Linked DNA regions of Homo sapiens: all the other regions are linked to region 2. Evidence: fine-mapped expression QTL. A gene starts in region 2. Each other region holds a variant in brackets. All regions are shown on one strand. Distances are between the middles of the regions.

What was found. PIP is the estimated chance that this variant, and not a neighbour inherited with it, causes the effect.
Region 1: its variant is fine-mapped to the expression of SLIT1 in lung (TOPMed, PIP above 0.99).
Region 3: its variant is fine-mapped to the expression of SLIT1 in tibial nerve (GTEx, PIP above 0.99).
Region 4: its variant is fine-mapped to the expression of SLIT1 in prostate (GTEx, PIP above 0.99).
Region 5: its variant is fine-mapped to the expression of SLIT1 in whole blood (INTERVAL, PIP above 0.99).

What each region holds. Positions count from the first base shown.
Region 1 is chr10:97,035,872-97,039,988 of GRCh38, forward strand. It overlaps SLIT1 (slit guidance ligand 1), which reads right to left. Exons shown (of 37, transcript NM_003061.3): 21 at 4,117; 22 at 1,827-1,895. Among named protein-coding and RNA genes, the nearest start is that of SLIT1-AS1, 65 kb to the right of the region's middle. RefSeq lists an enhancer at 2,211-2,711. The variant C/T (reference allele first, on the strand shown) is at 2,142.
Region 2 is chr10:97,183,441-97,187,557 of GRCh38, forward strand. SLIT1 (slit guidance ligand 1) reads right to left here and starts at 2,519. Exons shown (of 37, transcript NM_003061.3): 1 at 2,038-2,519. The coding sequence starts at 2,234. All of the region lies in intron 11 of ARHGAP19-SLIT1 (ARHGAP19-SLIT1 readthrough (NMD candidate)), which reads right to left. RefSeq lists enhancers at 2,363-2,863, 2,864-3,364.
Region 3 is chr10:97,224,261-97,228,371 of GRCh38, forward strand. It overlaps ARHGAP19 (Rho GTPase activating protein 19), which reads right to left. Exons shown (of 12, transcript NM_032900.6): 12 at 1-1,872. The coding sequence ends at 1,862. All of the region lies in intron 11 of ARHGAP19-SLIT1 (ARHGAP19-SLIT1 readthrough (NMD candidate)), which reads right to left. All of the region lies in intron 2 of LOC105378447 (a long non-coding RNA gene), which reads left to right. Among named protein-coding and RNA genes, the nearest start is that of SLIT1, 40 kb to the left of the region's middle. The variant T/C (reference allele first, on the strand shown) is at 2,455.
Region 4 is chr10:96,767,487-96,771,603 of GRCh38, forward strand. No RefSeq gene overlaps it. Among named protein-coding and RNA genes, the nearest start is that of PIK3AP1, 49 kb to the left of the region's middle. The variant T/C (reference allele first, on the strand shown) is at 2,137.
Region 5 is chr10:97,246,889-97,251,005 of GRCh38, forward strand. The region is part of intron 6 of ARHGAP19 (Rho GTPase activating protein 19); the gene reads right to left. The region is part of intron 6 of ARHGAP19-SLIT1 (ARHGAP19-SLIT1 readthrough (NMD candidate)); the gene reads right to left. Among named protein-coding and RNA genes, the nearest start is that of ARHGAP19, 44 kb to the right of the region's middle. The variant T/C (reference allele first, on the strand shown) is at 2,306.

The DNA of each region.
Region 1 (4,117 bases), 150 kb before region 2:
CTGCCCACCAATGAACTCCAGCTCGTGTTCCAAGATGCCCTCCCCGCAAGCCGCCTCCCTGAGTTGATCACATCCTCCTTGAGCCACAGCCCTAATCAGCATTGACCTCTGTTGGAACCCTTATCACCCACACGACTTTATGCGCTCCCTCCCCTCCCCTGCATCCTCCCTAAACCATGACAGTCTGGAGAGGGGGCCATGACTTCGGGGCCTTCACGTCTGCCCACTTCATGCGCTCTCAGCTCAGGAAACATTTAGAAAATGCAACGATGTGCCGTGCCTTCATCTTCTCCTCCTGAACGTTCCTCTAATCTAATTCTAAATCATTCCACTGTCTTTGGAGATACATTTAAGTGCTCTACTGAATGTTCAACACACTTTGTGGTCCTCCCCTGTGATGAGGAGGTGGTGGTACTTCAGCCCCCAAGAGGCAGTTTCACTGGCTCAAAGCACTCTGACACCAGCCACTGAATCACACTACTCCATCCCTTCTCCACCCCTCCCATTGGAACATTCAACACACATTGGCCAGGTCATTAAGCAAAGACAGATAAATTGGAGCTTCAAAATTCTGTAAGCCAGAGCCGCCCAAAGTAGCCAGTCCTTGAACTAAATTTCACCAACCCACAATAAGAAACTTGGGCCAAGATCCGGTCACCACACCTAGCTTAGTTTACGCGAACATTGTTTCCATAGCAAGACTTTCTCAACAAAGGAAGCAATACATTGATTTAGATTCTGGTGTAAGCGCCATATCTAATTACAAACCCATTACAAACAGTTCTGGGACTGATGTGGGCCCGTAGATTGCACTTGGAGTGGGACTGCTCCAAATCACACTAAGGTGGAATGTTCTCTGGACTTCTTTTTGGTAGAATCTGGCCAAGGAGCAGATAAAGACAATTGAAGTGAGGAGCTAGGTAGGCTAGAAAACTAAAAGGAGCTGAACTTATTATCCTGAGGCTTATTTTGTATATTTTCATGGAGTAGAAGGGGTCAAAGGTGGAAATAATAGAAAAGCAGAGGCGTAGCCTGAAGAAAAACTTAGTTACAGGTATGTATTTGTAGCTGCCATAGTTCATACTTGGTTTGAGAGCTGAGCTGGACCGAGAAGCTTTCCATCACCCTCCACTTTTCCTGGCTCCTTGGCTCCTAACCTTGCAAGAATAACCCCCTTTGTGTGTGTGTGTGTGTGTGTGTGTGTGTGTGTGTGTGTGTGTGTGTGTGTATGTGTGTGTGTGTGACGGAGTTTTGCTCTTGTTGCCCAGGCTGGAGTGCAATGGTGCGATCTTGGCTCACTGCAGCCTCCACCTCCCGGGTTCAAGCGATTCTCCTACCTCAGCCTCCCGAGTAGCTGGGATTACAGGCATGTGCCACCATGCCCGGCTAATTTTGTATTTTTAGGAAAGATGGGGTTTCTCCATGTTGATCAGGCTGGTCTCGAACTCCAACATGAGTTCGAGAGGTTATCCGTCCGCCTCAGCCTCCCAAAGTGCTGGGATTACAGGTGTGAGCCACCGTGCCCGCCCGACCAGGATAACCCTTTTAACAGTCACGACCAGCCTCACGGGGGAGCTTTGGGGAGACGGCGTGGGCAGGAGGAGGAGGCAGGTCCAACCCAACATGGCCTGGAACTATGTAATTGCCAATCGTGGCCACTAGGTGGCAAAACAGCTCTAGGCACAGCTGTTCCCAGAGGGGAGCAGGGAAAGGAAAAGAAGCAGGATCTGCCCAGAAGTGAGGTCCGTAGGAAATTCCAGGAAAGCCGGAGTCCTGATGGTTAGATGCCAAAGGCCCTCCTGTCCTCAAGCGGCCTGGATACTTACACGAGCTGCAGGTACTTGAAGGTAGACAGCTGTCCCGGAACCAGCGTGAACTGGTTCCCGTCCAAATAGCTGCAGAGAGAACACAGCGGCGTTAGTGCCCATCTCCACCTCTGGTGGTGCCCCATGCTGGGGACAGCCTTCCCTGCAGCCAGGGACTTCGCTCTCATTTCCTCTCCTCCACATAGGCCACACGATGGGCCCAGAATCACTTATGGGAGGAGAAAATATGTACGTTGTTGAAGCCATCTGGGGAGGTGCCACCCAGAGGACTTGGTAAAAAGCCAATAGTCACGTGGCCTCTCTCGGTTCCCTTCT[C/T]GCTTCCCTTCTCACCCTCCCAGCCTCCTCCTTGTCCATGGACACTCCCTGGGCCCCTGCCTTCCCCTCCCTGCTCTGCTCTTTCCTGGCCAAATAGATCTGATTTGCACGTTACCGGGCCCTGCCAGCTCCCAGGGCCCCCTGTCCACCTGCTGGCATGGGCTGTGAAGCTGATTCACAGCCAGACTGCCCAACCAGTTCCCCCTCATTCCATCAGCACCCCTCTGCCTTCCTGCCTTCCAGGCTCCGCACCCTGATGTCGCTTCTCCTCCTCCCTCTGCAGCCAGTGCCACCGCTGCTCTCTCACAGCTTGCTTTCCTTGCACTCTCATGCCACCCGCCGACTGTGCACCACCACCCATGCCCGGGCTCCTGCTGCAGCCTCTTCTGTCTGTTCTCTGCACCTTGGACCTCCCTTCTGGCCTCCACTCTACTCACTGCTATCCAAGTCACTGTCCTTAAAACCAAGCCCACCGAAATCCTCCTAAGCCCGAAGCTTCCCAAGGTTCCCATTTCTACAGGATAGAGCTTGGGATTCAAGATGCTCTGAACCTCCCCCTCTTCCCTTCATTGTTGACCATTCATGCCTCCAGCCTGAAGGTGCTAAGCAGTGGCCCAATGCCAGGAGCTGAGCCAAGCTGAGCTCCAGCACAGGATCTCCACCCCCCAACTAACTACAGCCTGCAGGACAGCTCTCCCCCACTTCCCAAAGCCCCAGAGAGGAGCAAAAGGAGGGCTGTGCTCATCCTTACCCCTCGCTCTGCATCATACAAACTGACTTCCCACCCATCTCGTTTGATCCTCGAGGCAGTCCTCGTCCACATACCCAAGTAGTCCCATTTCACAGATGACAAAACTGAGGTTTAGAGAAGTTAAAAGATTTTCGCAGGCTCTGAACTTCACCATCTTCAGTCAAAGAAGGTAGGCTGCCCCACCCATCCCATTATTCTCAGGGCTGCTAGGAGGCTCCAAGGAGAAAGCAAGGACTCATGAGGTTTGTAGGACACTAACTCTGCAGTAGAAAACAGGGTGAAGACGGGGCAGGCCAGGCCCAGGAAAAGGCCCGCAGTGGTTGATGTGCTTGTGAAGAAAAGGCCAGCCTTGCTGGTAATGCAAGAAATAACAAATAGAAGCCTCATCGCTGGTCCTGGGGGTGGGGGGAGAAAAGCTCAGCTTTGGAGGCCTGGAGGGATCAACCCCAGAGCACAGGAAGAGGTCAGAGGTCAGGAGCTGGCCAGAGTCTTTCATTGGGAGGTGTCTGCTGAAGAAGTCCCAGCTCTCCATTCCTGTTTGTCAAATGCATCTATGTCCAATCCTCCACATGTGCTCAGATACCAAATACCAATCAGCCAGGATTTCAGCACCATACTCAGTGCTGACCCAGGGAAGCAAGAAGGCCACCTTCTCACATGGTCAATGGGAGTGCAAAGGAAACAGATTTTCTTGGAAGACCATCAGGCAAAAGGCAGCAAGAGTCCTAAAAACGCACCGCTCTCTGACTGGCGATTTCAGTGAGGGGGTGTTAGCACTGGTGCTGTTTATGACAGTAAAAAAAAATTGGAAACAAATATCCAACAAAAGGGGTTTTGTTATCTGGGTCATAGTAGATTCATGTGAAGAACACTACACTGCTGGTGCAAAAATCACATTTGTGTCTTCATGACACAGGAGCCTGAGACAATGACAGGCGGGAAAGCAAGGTTCTCCTCATTTTAAAGGCGGAGCTTAGTTTAAAGGGAGGAAGCACTCGCTGCCATGCGGTCATCAGGTGACCGCAGAGGGAGAATCAGAGAGAAGCTCAAAGCCTTTCTGGAGGCAGTGTTTTCTGCAAAGCCCGAACTCCAGCTCCTAGTCAGCTAATGCCTGCTCTTGGTCACCTCCTCCTCCCATGGCTAGGCCCCAGCCCCTCAGGAAATGCCCCCACTGTCCCCGTCCTGTGGACCCACGTGAAGGGGGCAAGGCCTTGAGCTACTCACA
Region 2 (4,117 bases):
TCACAAGAACCAGAGACCTTATGTAGCCTCAGCCCCATTTTCCTGATGGAAAGCAACTAAGGTTCAGAGAAGTTAAGTAACTTGCCCAAGGTCACACAGCTAATAGGTGACAGAGCTGGGGAACCAGGCAGTATAGCTCCCAGAATGCCACCTCTTTCCTCTGTACTAGGAAATTTCATTTTCATCTCACTCTGATCACAAAAGAGCTAAAGAGTTCATGGAAGTCTTAAACACTAAAGGTGGTGAGAGAGTAAAGAGGGAGGAGATGACTTTAAGACTCAAGATTCAAAAGCAAAGAAGAAGGGCTAATGTGTCTTAGATCTAGGCTGCAACCAGGGTAGCAGCTTCAGGAGAAACTCCAGTGGACAAGGCAAGGGGAGCAGGGAGCAGGTACAGAGGGGACAGGCATGGAGGGTGACCAGGCCACTGCGGGGGTCCTCTGGACAGATTTCTGACCCTCAGATCCTCTCTGGGTCCACACAGGATAATGCACACGCTGCCCACAGAAACTCAGTTTGGTACCACCTCTCCCCAGCCCTGTAACACACAAGCATTCACACACACACATACACATGCACCACACACACACACACACACACACACACACACACACACACACTTCCCATCTAGATTGCATCTAGATTGCAAATTCTCTAAAACCTCCACGGGAATTTTTCAGATGCAGCCAAGAAGAGTCTGGGGCAAATGTGTGCTCACTAATTGCTGGCCTTGGTACAGAGTCTGATTCGGGAGACAGCTCTCCTCAGGGTCAGATTTCTGTCTCTGACCAGCTGGGGGCCATGAAAATGTGCTCGAAAGTTATCAAAATATGCACACCTTTCCTGAGAGCCACTGCAGTCACCGAGGAGTGTGGGAAGGAGGAGTAGGTAGGTTTCAAAGGAGCCAGCAGCCTTCTCCAAAGCCCTGTTCAAAAATCTCCTGGTGTAGTCACCTCTGCGAGCAGTACAAAGGCCCTGCATGTGACCAAAATCTACACACACACAGCCCATTACGGGGACTCTCATGGCCTCACGCTATTAAGGTGGCCCCTTAATACTAGGAATTCACACAGAAACACATTCTGCAGGAGAGTCACAGAAAACAAAGTATAAAGGTCTGTAAATACACACACTCAAACACACCCAAACACACACACACACATTCTACTAGCTTACTGGGTCTAGAAAAGAAAAGGATCAAGTTTCCTCAAGAATTCACAAGTGAGACAGAACAGGGGAAGAGAAATGCTATTTTTTTATTACTTGTCATGGTCAATATCTTTAACCTTGGGCCCCCCTCTCCAAGCTCCTGACTTCTTGGCATTATCCACCGGGTTCTCCATCCAAGACACACCTGCCCCTTTTCGGGTGCTGAATGTTACATACCCCAAGCCCCATACCCAAAGCCCTCAGGTCCCATTGTCTGCCTGTGTTGGGGATGGCTGGGTGTGGAGGGAGGCGGGTGAGTAGGGGACCAACGCGTGGCACCTGCAGGGGAAGAATTCTCAAGGCTCTGGGGCAAACAATGGAGAAGAAGGGGCAGACCAGAAACTTCGCCTCCATCCCACCCTGCTGCCCTTCGTCAGGAGCAAGCTCTGGGAGCGGGAATCTGCGCAGCTGGCTCAGAACGCGGCCGTAGCCCCATGTGCCCAAAAGGAGACATTGTGCTTGGCGAGTGTGGGAAGTGTCCCTCCTGGGTGCAAGGAAGGCTTTCTGACACCAGTTCGCAGGCACCCTGGAGGAATAAAGCGCTGGCGCAGTGAGGAGGGCCTGAGGGTGCGGAGTGCAGGGTGCAGGGTGCAGGTGTGAGGACGGAAGCTGACAACCCCGCCGAGGGCCCTTTGAATCCCAGGGATGGGGAAACCACGGCGCTCCTGGCTCCTGGCTCGGGAAAGACCCCGGCAGGCACTGACCCGTCTGTGGGCTGCGGAGCCCGGACGGGCCCCAATGGTCCTGCCCCCACCCCCAAGTCCGGAATTGCGTCTGGGTGGGAGGGCAACCTCGGAGCCAGGGAGCCAGGGGCGGGGACCATACTCACAGGCGCTCGGTGTTCCGAGGTATATTCTTGGGAATGGCCTGCAGCCCCGTGCCGTGGCAGTCCACCGTGGTTCCGGTGCAGGTGCAGAGGGCGGGGCACGCCGAGGCACCCAGGCGCCACGCGGCTGCCCACAGCAGCAGCCAGAGCTCCGGCCGGACCGGCCCCGCCGAGGACCCCCACCCGGGAGTCAGCGCCATGGTGCCCTCACAGCGTCCCGCTCGCGAGCCAGACGGCAGCAGCCGCTGACCATCCCCGTCCGGGGCCGCCTCCAGGTGCAGTCCCGGGGCAGAGCCACCGAAGAGCCCGCGGGCTTGCGCGCGGCGCCCCTGCGGGCTGGGAGGCACCTTGCTCCTCCAAGCGACGGCGCCTGTGCGCGGACGGAGGGAGGGCGCCTTGGGCGGAGGGGGCTCGGCTCCTCTGCCGTTTCGCCGCCTGCGTCTCCCTCTCCCTCCCTCCAGCTCCCAACTGACTGCTGCGAGGAGGAAAATGGGCAGGCCCCGCGCGCGCACGCACCCTGCGCACACACCACACACACACACACGATCACACACACACCCGCGCGCTCGCTCCCACCCGGCAGTCATCCATCAATCGAAAAGCACACATCCAGGGCCAGGCTCCTCCCCGCCCTCCCCCGCCGCAGCCCCCCTCTCCCGACGACCACTCAGCGGCTGCAAGCCGCCTACAGTTTCAAAGGTGGAACCTCCGAGGCGCCGTCAGCGGGCACGGGGCTGCGGGGGATGGGAGAAGAGGGAAGGGGGTGTGACTCGACCCGCCAAGTCCTGGCTGTACACACACACACACACACACACACACACACACACACACACACACGGCGAGGATGCGCACATTTAGACGCACGCACCCCGGCACCCGCGGCCCCAGCTGCTAGTCCAGGGTGGGAGGGAGATCTTATTTTGCCGCTTGGACGCCTTCCCGGGGAGTCAGACCCGTTTCCCCCCATCCCCCGACGGCAGCAGCGGCCTCTCGGCCCCACCCGACTCGCTGTGTCAATTCTTGGTTAAGGGAAACCCTGTGCCTGTGCCCCAGGTAGCATCCTCAAGCCACCAACCTTACTTAGCCTGGACTTTGAGGATGGAGCTTTGTCGGGGGGGAGGGTCCACGAAAGCGCTAGGCGGAGTACAGTCTCCTTCCTACCTCAATGCACCCACTTCTCAGAGGGGAACAAGCTAGCCGCATGCCCAGGATGAGAATGGCTCTGATTGGAACACTTGCTCAGCAGGGCGTATTTGTACCATACAGTTACACGGGCTTCTTCCCCCGTTGTAGAAGAGAGGGACAGACATTAAGGGGACTTGGAAATCTGGCAAACGTCTTCCTCCACTCACACCAGCGTTCCTCCATTTCTGACAGGTGGAAACAGATGAAAATGAATATTCCATCTTGACATCAAAGGAGACAGAGAGGGCTGGCATAGCGCTGGGCGGCCTGCTTGGGAGAGAACCCCACAGGCCAGCCCCGTCAGACCCAGGCCTCACACCCGGCTGGGTAGGGACCTTCGTCACCGTAAGGCATGTGTGGACGTGGGTGTGAACGGGACATCCAGGTGGGGAGAGAATTCTCCTCAACCCCAGAAAAGACGAAAGATCTCCTCAACGCCAAGGACAGCTGTGGCTCGCTGGGGCAGTGTCCAGCAGTCGGGGCCTTGACGTGAGGCTGCTTGGCAAGAGGACACAGCTGGGTAGCCCGAGAAGCACCTCCCGTCTCAGGAGCGGCCTGGGTCCAGACACAGCATGGACGCATTTGGTGGGGAGAGTGTCGGGCAGGGTGGGGATAGGGGAGGTTGATAGACTCCACAAGGTTGAAGCCTTATCACCCACCAGGTACCCAAGGCTCAGGCGTTTTCTTTGCTTTTCTTTTCCATGTTGATGAGAATTTTGCAGTCTCTCTACTGTCATAGCACAGTATGTTACAATTTAGGTGGCTGATTTTATGGGCTTTTGACAGTTCTTTTAAAGTTTTCACACATCCCTGTCCATGACCTCCATCCGGTAAGTGGGTTCTTGAGCATAAGTTCAGTTTCTCAGGGGGCAGGGCTTTCTCAGGGGTGCCTGTGTGG
Region 3 (4,111 bases), 41 kb after region 2:
ATTTGGTGATACCCAAAGGGTTTTCTGTTTGAATTAACTGATATCTGGTGTAAGGGATTTCATTTTCTTAATAAGAAAAAAAAAGTCAAATATTTAATAGAAACCTACGCAAACGAATTTGCTAATATGTGTTTTTACAAATGACATAAAACTGCTCTAGAGAAAGGGGCTTCTAAGCAGTTTTGTTTTCCTAACCATCTATTGTTCACACTGCATTAAGCTGGAAGACCAAATTTTACATTTTTCTCCACTATTGCTGTTACAGCAGCAAAAGCAGCAGAAAGGCTGGCAGAGGGGGCTGCCAGCTGGGCACAAGGCCAAGCTCTGCTCCCCCAGAGTCATCTTTCATTTCAGCAATGGTGCAGCATATTCAACAGTTTAGAAATAGGTCAGCAAACCACATTTTGTGGGGCAACTGCTTCCCCATAGTGGCCTGACTCGGCTCCAACCCACAGGGTGAGAAGGGTTGTACAGCTCCACAGAGCCAGGCACAAACCTGAGCATTCCCCCCTGCTACATGCTGCTCTCTGGGCAGACACCAGTTCATACTAGGTCAAAGCCATGCCACTGCTCTATCCAACACAAGTGAACACACCAAATCCAAAAGCCAGAAGCTCTGGCCCCATCTCCAAATTACCACCTGTGTCCCTTCTGACAAAGAGAGGGCGGAACAGTAACACTCCTTGAACATTGGTGACAAGCCACAGCTGCTTCCAAATAAGAACATTCTCTCCTTTAAATCCTGTCAGCCCTGCAGAGGTTGCTGCTTGCTTCTTCTTTCTGATCCTAACTTCCTCTCAGGAGACGGTCTAGCCTGCACCCTCAGAGGGTGCAATGTAATCCCACCCATAAAGAGTCATCCTGGGACATAAAGGCAGCCAGCCCCCTCCTAGGCACACTCCAGAGCTTCCCCCACATACAAATATTTTAGCAAACTTCTCTTATGCTGTCAGTGACTTTCCTTGAGTCACAGTGATTTGGTTCAGAAGTATTACGTTGGCACCAGAGATGTTTTAGTCAAGAGGAAATTGAATGAAGATAACAAGTTCAGCAAAACACAATTATTTTCACATCACTGAGGAAAGGGAAAGAGAGAGAGAGATGGACAAGGGAGGGAGAAATGGAAGGAAGGAAAAGAGTTTAATAATTAAGATTTGTTAAAATACTGTATCATTCTGAATTCTCCTTTTTCAATACTGCAGGTCAAATACTCTGATGTCACACCCAAGAAATAATAAAAAATGTCCAGAAAAGCTATAAATTCTTTGGACACAAATTAGGTATTGAGGAATACAGCCTCATAAGATAAAGAGTTTTCCCAAAGCTCAAAGTGAAAAAGAGGGAAAGATATCTAGCTTAGAGCCCAACCAAAAACATGGCTTTTAAAACAAAGAAATAAACAAACAAAAACAACCAAATACCCAATACTATCAAAACAGAGAAAAACCCAAAATATCCATTAAAAACAACATCAATCCACTGGGACAGTGCTTTTTAAAAAATTACTGGCAGTTGAGCACACATTTCATATTTTTTTTCAAAAGTGGAATCTGCCTAAACACATTGAGTGAGCACTGAAGCCCACCTTAGTGTGCTGTATAAGCTGGTTGGATAGTTAGTGGTTTCCCCATAATATTAAAAAAGAGAGACAGGGCCTAAGCACTCTCTCAGAAGGCACAGCTTGCAAACATCATCCAGTGAGTGGGGTTAGAGGTATCAGTCGGGTCACGGTATTAGTTGGCTTTGACAATTCAAAATGCAGCAAGCAAGCTGCAAGTCCAAGCTTTGCTGTGGGCAGGAATAACACCTGCCCACTAAACAGAAAATTCTGCATGGACCATAGGAGACAACTCTGGATCCTTCAGAGAAATCCTAGGTTGAAGGAAAAACAAGAGCGTTAGACATGTTCTTAAATATTTCTTTTTGCAAACATCCCACTCAAAAGCTACAGGGTCTACACTTAATATTTTCTCCAAACTGAAGGCTAATGAGTTTAATTAAGAATGTGTGACTCTACCAAATAAACATCTGCCTGATATAATCTCGTTCATTAAATCATCTTAATGGCCGTAACAGCTAACAGTAAGTACATATTTTGTGCTGCTCTAAGTTATTTATGTACATTATTTATCCTCACAATAACCAGTATATGAGGTACTACTCCTACCATTTTACAGAGTAAGAATCTGCAGCCTACATAGTTCATTTGCCCGAGGACTAATATATAAGCTATTAAGCAGCAAAACTGGGAATGGAACCCAAGCCCAGCTGAATGCAGAACTCATGCTCCTACCACCACCGCCCCTCTCAACACTCAATGTTTACTAAAAGCCGACTCAGCACAAGGCACTGTCATTTTTCGGAAGATGAGAAGAACAGGAGACAGAAGGCCACAAATACACTAAGTCTGACCTTTGTCTTCTAGAAGAAAAACTAGTTACAGAGATAAGACAA[T/C]ATGTGAAGTAAATACAGTAAATCATACTAAGTGTCAATATTTTTGTAGCATTAATAAGTTCAAAGGAAAAAGTATTATATTTGGCTGTGTTAGCCAGAGAAAGTTTCAAAGAGGAGGTGAGATTTAGGCTAGACTTTGAAGAATGGGTAAGATTTTGACTACTGAAAATAATGGCCATAATAAGTAGGTGCTAAATCAGTGGTTCTCATGTGGAGATGACTTTGCCTCCTCACCCACCATGGGACATTTGGCAATGTCTAGAAGCACTTTTACTTATCACAACTGGGGGAAGGATGCTCCCAGCATCGATGGGGTAAAGGCCAGGAAGGCTGCTCATCATACAGTGCACATGGCAGCTCCTACAACAAAGCATTATCTGAACCAACATGTCAGTAGTGTGCCAAGGTTGAGAAATCCTGTACTAAATAATAGTCTTTTTGGATTATGTTGTTGATCACAGTAATAAAATTACATTATCTTCTTCAAAGAATATGTTACTTTTATTATAAACATCACTATCAAAAAATCTGAGGTTGTATATTCATTGTTGTATAAAAGAAATACATGGCAGGCACCTGGATCTGTGGGCTTGGAGACTGCCAATGTCTGAAGAGAGTTCAGACCTGGCATTGCCAGGCTGGAAGTAGTTATCATACAGAGAGCAGAGCTGAGCAGTGGAAGGAGACCAAGCTGCAAAGAGGCAGGAGAAGCAGGTGCAGAAACGAACAGAACTTAAGAGCAGAACTTAAGATAGAGCATTGAAAAAAATAAAGATGTAGTGGAATAGGCAAACAACAGTAAGCCACTGCAGATAAGGAAAAGAATTAAAGAGGAAGAAGAACGAGAATAATGTAGCATCATAACACCAGGAAGGCATTTCCAGATAGAGGAAGTGACCAGGAGAGAGTAAAGTGAAAATGCCATTGCCTGATCCAATTGAGGGTCATTCATTATCTCGACTTCTCTGAACTACTAACATTTTTGAGAATCTAATTAGAACCATATATTCTCTCCCCCAGAAAAATACACATATGTACCTACACAAAAGATTGCATCAACAATACCGGGAACTTTATTAGACCATTTAGGAAGTCCACAGATGACAAGGTCAACAATCCCTGCTCTAAAGCTTATTGGTGAAATATTAGACTGGTTTTTAAAAAACGTCTTTCTTTCTTTCCAAGGTAGAGCTGTCAATACAGAAAGGTATTATTTCCGCATGTCTTTCAAAAATGACAGCAACAAAAGTTGTAACTGATACAAAACAATGTAGCCTTCAAAAATAACTTATGCTTGGTTTTGATTCATGGACATACAGAAATATTTAGACACAAAAAACTCAAACCCCCATCTTGTCTCAATTAGACAGCCCAGCCTGGAAGACAGAAGCAACGAGGAAAGAAAAGAGAGTTTAGATAATTCATTCAAGGATAAGTAAGAAGAATATACTGAAATCTAATTTTCCAGAAAAGAATTTATCCATAAGGATTAGGCTTTTGATCTCTGCCTATTGCTGATGTCTCAAATAGTAATTATGCTCATATCCCAGTGATAAAACAATCATGTCAAACCAGACTCACTTCAGCTGCCACATGAGCCTTATATAACAAGACCAGGTTTCAGCCCGTTTTCTACAGTAACAACTATAACCACTTG
Region 4 (4,117 bases), 420 kb before region 2:
AAGATTTGAACAGATATTTATACACCCATGTTCATAGCAGTATTATTCACAATAGCCGAAAGGTGAAAACAACTGAAATGTTCATCAACTGATGGATGAACAAACAAAATGTGTGATATACATACAGATATATATACAGTGTGATATACATACTCAAATGTTCATCAACTGATGAATGGATAAACAAAATGCGTGATATACATACAATGTAATATGAGTCAGCCTTTAAAAGGAAGGACATTCTGACACATGCTACAACATGGATGAACCATGGATGAGATACGCTAGGTGAAGTAAGCCAGATGCAAAAGGACAAACATTGCATGATTCCACTTATATGAGGTAACTAGAGTAATAAAATTCACAGAGACAGGAAGTGCAACAATGGTTACTAAGGACTGGGGTTGGGGGAAGAGAATCAGGAGTTATTGTTTAATGCAGCAGTCCTCAATCTTTTTGGCACCAGGGACTGGTTTTGTGGAAGACAATTTTTCCATGGACAGGTATGGGAGGGGAAGATATTTTTGGGATGATTCAAGGGCCTTACATTTACTGTGCACTTTATTTCTGTTATGATTACATTCTAATACATAATGAAATCATTATACAACTCACCATAATGTAGAATCCTTCGGAGCCCTGAGCTTGTTTCCCTGCAACTAGGCAGTCCCATCCGGAGGTGATGGGAGACAGTGACAGATCATCAGGCATTAGATTCTCATCAACAGTGGGCAACCTAGATCCCTCATATGTGCAGTTCACAGTAGAATTCATGCTTCTATGAGAATGTAATACCGCTGCTGATCTGACAGGAGGCGGAGCTCACGTGGTAACGCAAATGACTGGGAGCGGCTGTAAATACAGATGAAGGTTTGCTCCCTCACTCGTCACTCACCTCCTGCTGTGTGACGCGGTTCCTAACAGACCACGGACTGATACAGGTCTCTGTACCCTGGTTTAATGGGTACCGGGTTTCAGCTTGGGAAAATGAAATGTTCTGCAGATAGATGGATGTGATGGTTGCACAACAATGTGAATATATTTATGCTACAGAACTATACACTTTTAAAGGTTTTAAAATAAGTTTTATATGAAACTGACATGTTTTCAGAAAAAAATACATTTCATATTATGTGTAATTTACTACATTACATGAGTATAATAATAAAAACCTAAAACTCAACAGATGGTTGGGAGGCCTAGGCGGGTGAATCACTTGAGGCCAGGAGTTACAGACCAGCCTGGCCAACATGGTGAAACCCCATCTCTACTAAAACTATAAAAATTAGCCAGGTGTGGTAGTGCGTACCTGTAATCTCAGCTACTTGGGAGGCTGAGGCAGTAGAACTGCTTGAACCCAGGGGACGGAGGTTGCAGTCTGCAGAGATCACACCACTGCCCTCTAGCCTGGGAAGCAGAGTGAGACTCAGTCTCAGAAAACAAAAAAACAAAACAAAAACCCTCAACAGATGGGTTTATACTTTATTAGCTACAGTCAAATCAATCAGTGAATGGAGCAGGGGTCAGAAGAAAATTCCCAGAATGCAGCACAGAGGAACAGAAGTCACCCCAAAGAATAATATAGAATTTATGCTCTAGTCTCTGGCATTGGTTTTATGAGTCCTATTTTGGGGTTTCCCCTTTTATAGTAGAAGTTAGGCTTAATATGAGCTACCTTACATGCTCACCCATAGGAAAAAGAATGCCAGCTTTGACATAAGTATGCATATGCATTGTTCCATTTAATTTAATTAATTTAATTTCATTTCATTTATTTAATGATTCTAAGAGAGAGGAACCATGAATCCATTTTTGGGATGGATACTGAAGTCAAGTAGCTTACCCAAGGCCACACACCAAAAAGCCAAGATTCAACACAGGCTAATACAACTCCAAGCCTGCGTTCTTTCTAATACATCAGACTGTGCCTCAAGTGTTTGTTTATTCATTCATTCATTTAATAATTACTGTAAAAAATTAATTTAAAAATAATTATTGTGTATCTATTACAAGTTAAGACTAGGGGCCAGGCAAGGTAGCTCACGCCTGTAATCCCAGCACTTTGGGAGGCTAAAGCAGGCAGATTGCTTGAGCTCAGGAGTTCAAGACCACCCTGGCCAACATGGTGAAACCTTG[T/C]CTCTACTAAAAATACAAATAATAATAATAATAATAAGCTGGGCATGGTAGCATGCGCCTGTAATCCCAGCTACTCGGGAAGCTGAGGAAGGAGAATCACTTGAACCCGGGAGGCAAAGGTCACAGTGAGCCAAGATCACACCACTGCACTCCAACCCAGGTAACAGAGAGAGACTCTGTCTCAAAAAAAAATAATAAATAAAACAATAAAAAAAATCTTTTTCAATGGCTCCTCTTCTTCCCCAACTTATTGACACTGGTTTGGGATTAATATGTTTCCATTTCTTTTTTTTTTTTCATGCCCTCCAGACTGGAGTGCAGTGGCACGTTCATGGCTTACTGCCACCTTGACCTCCTGGGGCTCAGGTGATCCTCCCACCTCAGTCTCCTAAGTAGCTGAGACTACAGGTTCATACTACCATGCCCAGCTAATTTTTATATTTATTGTAGAGACAAGGTTTCACCATGTTGGTCTCAAACTCCTGGGCTCATTGATCTATCTACCTTGGCCTCCCCAGTATGCTGGGATTATAGGTGTGAGCCACTGCACCCAGCCAATAAGTTTCCGTTTTGTTGTTGTTTGAGATAGAGTTTCACTCTGTTGCCCCGACTGGAGTGCAGTGGCCCAATCTTAGCTCCCTGCAACCTCCGCCTCCGGGGTTCAAGTGATCCGCCCACCTCAGCCTCCCAAGTAGCACTTTGGGAGGTCAAGGCAGGCGTATAACCTGAAGTCAGAAGTTAGAGATCAGTCTGGCCAACATGGTGAAACCCCATCTCTACCAAAAATACAAAAAAATTAGCTGGATGTGGTGGCGGGTGCCTGTAATCCCAGCTACTCGGGAGGCTGAGGCAAGAGAATCATTTGAACCCAGGAGGCAACCCAGTTGCAGTGAGCCAAGATTGTGCCACTGTACTCCAGGCTGGGCAACAGAGCAAGAGTCCCTCTCAAAAAAAAAAAAAAGAAAAAAGAAAAAAGAAAGAAAGAAAGAGTGTGCTTATTGTGGGGCTAGCCAAGCTGGAGGATGAGAGATAATTCTCAAATCCACCTCATCAAGAATTTGGAGGGTAGGGTTTTTCATGGATAGCTCAGTGGGCAGGGGGCTAGAGAATGAGGAGTGCTGATTGATTGGGTCAGCGATGAAATCATAGGGGATGAAGCTGTCTTCTTGTGTTGAGTCAGTTCCTGGGTGGGGGTCACAAGACCAACTGAGCTAGTTTCTTGGTATGGGTTACTGGTCTAAGTGGAGCCAGCTGGTCCATCAGAACGTAAGGTCTGAAAAATACCTCAAACACCAATCTGATATTTTGCAATAGTGCTGTTGTCTATAGGAGCAACTGGGGAGGCTACAAACCTTGTGACCTCCAGCTACATGACTCCTGAACCATAATTCTAACCTTGTTAGTTTTACAAAGGAGGTTTCAATCCCTGAGCAAGGAGTGCATTAATTTTGGGAAGCACTTGTTGTCATCTTTGTTTTAAAGTTAAAGTATAAGCTAAATCCCTACCATAGTCAGTTTGGCCTACCCCCAAGAATGAACAATGACAGTTTGTGACGTTAGAAGCAAGATGGAGTCAGTGTTGCATTTCTCTCACTATCTTAATTTTTGCAAAGGCAGTTTCAATCTCACTGTATGCAAATTAAAAAAAAAAACTTTTTGTGTAATAAAGAAAGAGATGAAGAGAAGTGGTTCCCATGAAAACTGTTATTTTTGCCACACAAGTGTAAACTGAAAAGGTTTCTGCAGTTTGTAAGCCAGCACTGCTTAAAAAGACTGTTTCCTGGTTGGGTACAGTGGCTCATGCCTATAATCCAGCACTTTGGGAGGCCAAAGCAAGTGGATCACTTGAGGTCAGGAGTTTGAGACCAGCCTGGCCAATATGGTGAAACCCCATCTCTACTAAAAAAAAAAAAAAATACAAAAAGTAGCCAGGTGTGGTGGCACATGCCTATAGTCCCAGCTACTTGGGAGGCTGAGGCAG
Region 5 (4,117 bases), 63 kb after region 2:
GCACTATGGGAGGCCAAGGTGGGTGGATCACCTGAAGTCAGGAGTTCGAGACCAGCCTGACCAACATGGTGAAACCCCATCTCTACTAAAAATACAAAATTAGCCGGGTGTGGTGGCGTATGCCTGTAATCCCAGGTACTCAGGAGACTGAGGCAGGAGAATCGCTTGAACCCAGGAGACAGAGGTTGCAGTGTGCCAAGATCACACCATTGCACTCCAGCCTGGGCAACAAGAGCGAAACTCCATCTCAAAAAAAAAAAAATTACAAAAAAATTAGCCGGGCATGGTGGTGCATGCCTGTGGTCCCAGCTACTCAGAAGGCTAAGGGGGAGAATCACTTGAGCCCAGAAGTTCAAGGCTGCAGTGAGCCATGTTCATACCACTGCACTCCAGCCTAGGCAACAGAGCAAGACCCTGTCTCAAAAAAGAAAGAAAGAAATACCATTTAGAATTACTATGGACTAGAATCCTGTGACAACTACCCTGATACTGTCTTAGTAGATGTGCAAAATAATACAACTACCATAGAGGAAAACTGGGTTTGTAACATCTAATAAAATTACATTTGCACTTACCCTTTTACCCAGAAACCTCACTACTGGTAACATATCCTGAGTATGTAACTTCAGAAATGCAAAACACACTCGTATAAGATTAATCAAAAAATTGGATACAACCCAAATGTTCTTTAATAGAGAACTGGTTGAATCAACTTTCATACATCCATACAATACAGTACTATGAAGAAAGGAAGGGAGAGGAGGCAGGGAGGGAAAGAAAGGAAGGAACAGAGGGAAAGAAAGGAAAGGAAGGGAGGGAGAGAAAAAGAAAGGATGGAGAGAAGGAAGAAACACTTAATGAATTGATATGGAAGGATTTCTAGGATCTACTGTTGAGTGAGAAAAGTGAAGTAAATGTATATTTGTGTAAGAAAAAACCAGGAAATAGGAATATACACACAAATGTACATTTACTTGTTTTTATAAAAAGAAACACTAACAGGATAACCCAGAAAACAATGAAAATAATTAGAAAGGATTGAGATTTCTCTAAGTATATCTTTTAATGTGGTTTTGACTTTTTTTTTTTTTTTTTGAGACGGAGTCTCACTCTCTCGCCCAGGTTGGAGTGCAATGGCATGATCTCGGCTCACTGCAACCTCCGCCTCCCAGGTTCAAGTGATTCTTCCGCCTCAGCCTCCCAAGTAGCTGGGATTACAAGCACCCACCATCATGCCCGGCTAATTTTTGTACTTTTGTAGAGACGGGGTTTCACCCCGCCTTTGGGAGGCCAAAGCGGGTAGATCACTTGAGCCCAGGAGTTTGAGACCAGCCTGGGCAACATGGTGAGACCCATCTCTACAAAAAATACAAAAATTAGCCGGGTGTGGTGGCGCTCACCTGTAGACCCAGCTACTCGAGAGGCTGAGGTGGGAGGATCGACTGGTCCCAGGAGGCAGAGGCTGCTGTGAGCCCAGATCGTGCTACTGCACTCCAGCCTGGGTGACAGAGTGAAAATCTCCAAAACAAGAAAAAAAAAATCTGAAATTTGTAATATAAGAAAAAAAGAAATACAAATACAAAATACAAGAAGCCAAGAAAAAGTTGCGTAGTATTAAATCTGAATTGGTGGTATTAATATGAACTTACAATTGCTTTAAAAAAATGTTTTAATCTATTTCTTTGCCCTCAAGCAGCCTAGAAGCAATGACACACCAGAAACAATGAATATACCTAGTATCACTCAGAAGCCAAGGTTCCCTGGAGAAATAATTACTCCGATCTAGGCCAGCGCAAGTACAAAGTGAGCTGGGAACATTTTATACCAGAAAGGAAACACTCAAAGACAATACAGTCCTGTCAAAAAGATGTAGAAGCCGGTTAACAAGGGCTATCACCGGCCAAATCTGGGATAATTTAAATATCAATTTTGTTTGTTTGTTTGTTTGTGACAGGGTCTCACTCTGTCACCCAGGCTGGAGTGCAGTGGCATAATCTCGGCTCAGTGCAACCTCCACCTCCCGGGCTCAAGCCATCCTACCACCGTAGCCTCTGAGTAGCTGGGACCACAGGAGTGTGCCATCACGCCCGGCTAATTTTTTGTATTTTTCATAGAGATGGGGTTTTGCCACATTGCCCAGGAGAATATCAACATTATAAGTAAAATTGACTAACACTTTGGAAAAATAAAAATCCATGAGTTTATATTAATATTCATTTTTAAAGGGAGAGAGAATGAGACAAAGAAAAGCTATTCTCCAAAGAAGAAACTCAGCTTATAAAGGCTAAATGACAAAATTAGAAAA[T/C]CTTTATTTTTAATACCCAATAGATTCCAGCAGGATTATCAACGGATGCTAAAACCATTATTAGGTAATCACTCTACAGGTTATTTACTAACCGCAAAGGGGAAAAAAATTTACCTTTGTAACTGAAAGATCTGGCAGTTAGCAAAATTAACATCATGAAGAGAGAAAATCAAACAATCTGTGTCTCCTCATGTGAGGCAATGTGACGCACACAAACATCACCTGTGAAGTATCTTTGCCAAAAATGCTTAATCTGAATCTGATTAAGACTGTAGACCTGGCTTCTACTTTACAGGAACTACATGGAAGGTGATAGAGGAACAAGTTAAATAACTTGAGAAAACAATAAGACAAACTTAGAATGTGAGACATTCTACAACACAGTTAACTTGATGCTTCAATAAATGACATGAAGAAAAAGCATGAGTGTGTAGATTAAAAGTGTCATAATAATTAAAACCAGTACAGAAGCTTTGATTGGCCTATATTGAAAAAAAGTATGAAATACATTCTTAGGACAGCTGGGGAATTTGAATATGTACTGAAAGCTAGTTGATAAGAAATTCTTTTTAGTTTCTTAGATGTGATAATAGTAGTGTGATTCTTTTTTTTTTTTTTTTTTTGAGACGGAGTCTGGCTCTGTCGCCCAGGCTGGAGTGCAGTGGCATAATCTCAGCTCACTGAAAGCTCCACCTCCCGGGTTCACGCCATTCTCCTGCCTCAGCCTCTCCCAGGGGCCTGCCACCGCGCCTGGCTAATTTTTTGTATTTTTAGTAGAGACGGGGTTTCACCGTGTTAGCCAGGATGGTCTCGATCTCCTGACCTCATGATCCGCCCGCCTCAGCCTCCCAAAGTGCTGGGATTACAGGCGTGAGCCACCGCACCCGGCCAGTAGTGTGATTCTTAAGAGAATATGTTTATTATTGGGAGATGCATACATAAGTACTTAGGAATGAAGTATCATGGTGTCTGCAACTACTTTTAGTGATTCAGCCAAAAAAGTGTATGAACATATATAGAGAGAGATAAAGCTAATATGGCAATATGATAACATTTGTTGACACTGGGGGAGAGTTATATATGAGTATTCACTGTTTTACTCTTTTAACTTTTCTCTATATTTGAAATTTTTCAAAATAAAGGTCTTCAAAGAGTCTCATGACAAAAACATGATATGTATAGTTTAATTTCTTTTTCTTTTTTTTTTTTTGAGATGGAGTCTCGCTCTGTCGCCAGGCTGGAGTGCAATGGCGCAATCTTGGCTCACCACAACCTTTGCCTCCCGGGTTCAAGTGATTCTCCTGCCTCAGCCTCCAAGTAGCTGAGACTACAGGCGCCCACCACCACGCCCGGCTAATTTTTGTAGTAGAGATGGGGTTTCACCGTGTTGACTAGGCTGGTCTTGAACTCCTGACCTCAGGTGATCCACCTGCCTTGGCCTCCCAAAGTGCTGGGATTACAGGAGTGAGCCACCACGCCCAGCCAGTTTAATTTCTAAATTGAAAAACTATAAAACGGAGCTTAAGACCAACAGAAATTTTCTCCAAACAAGAATATATCTATTCTATTTCATTTAAAAAAAAGAAAGAAGGCCAAGAGCGGTGGCTCATGCCTGTAATCCCAACACTTTGGGAGGCCAAGGCAGGAGAAATGCTTGAGCCCAGGAGTTCAACACCAGCCTGGGCAACATGGTAGTACCCTGTCACCACAAATAATAGAAAAATTAGCCAGGCATGGTGGCACGCACCTGTCCCAGCTGCTTGGGAATCTGAGGTGGGAGGATCGCTTGAGCCTGGGAAGTCAAAGCTGCAG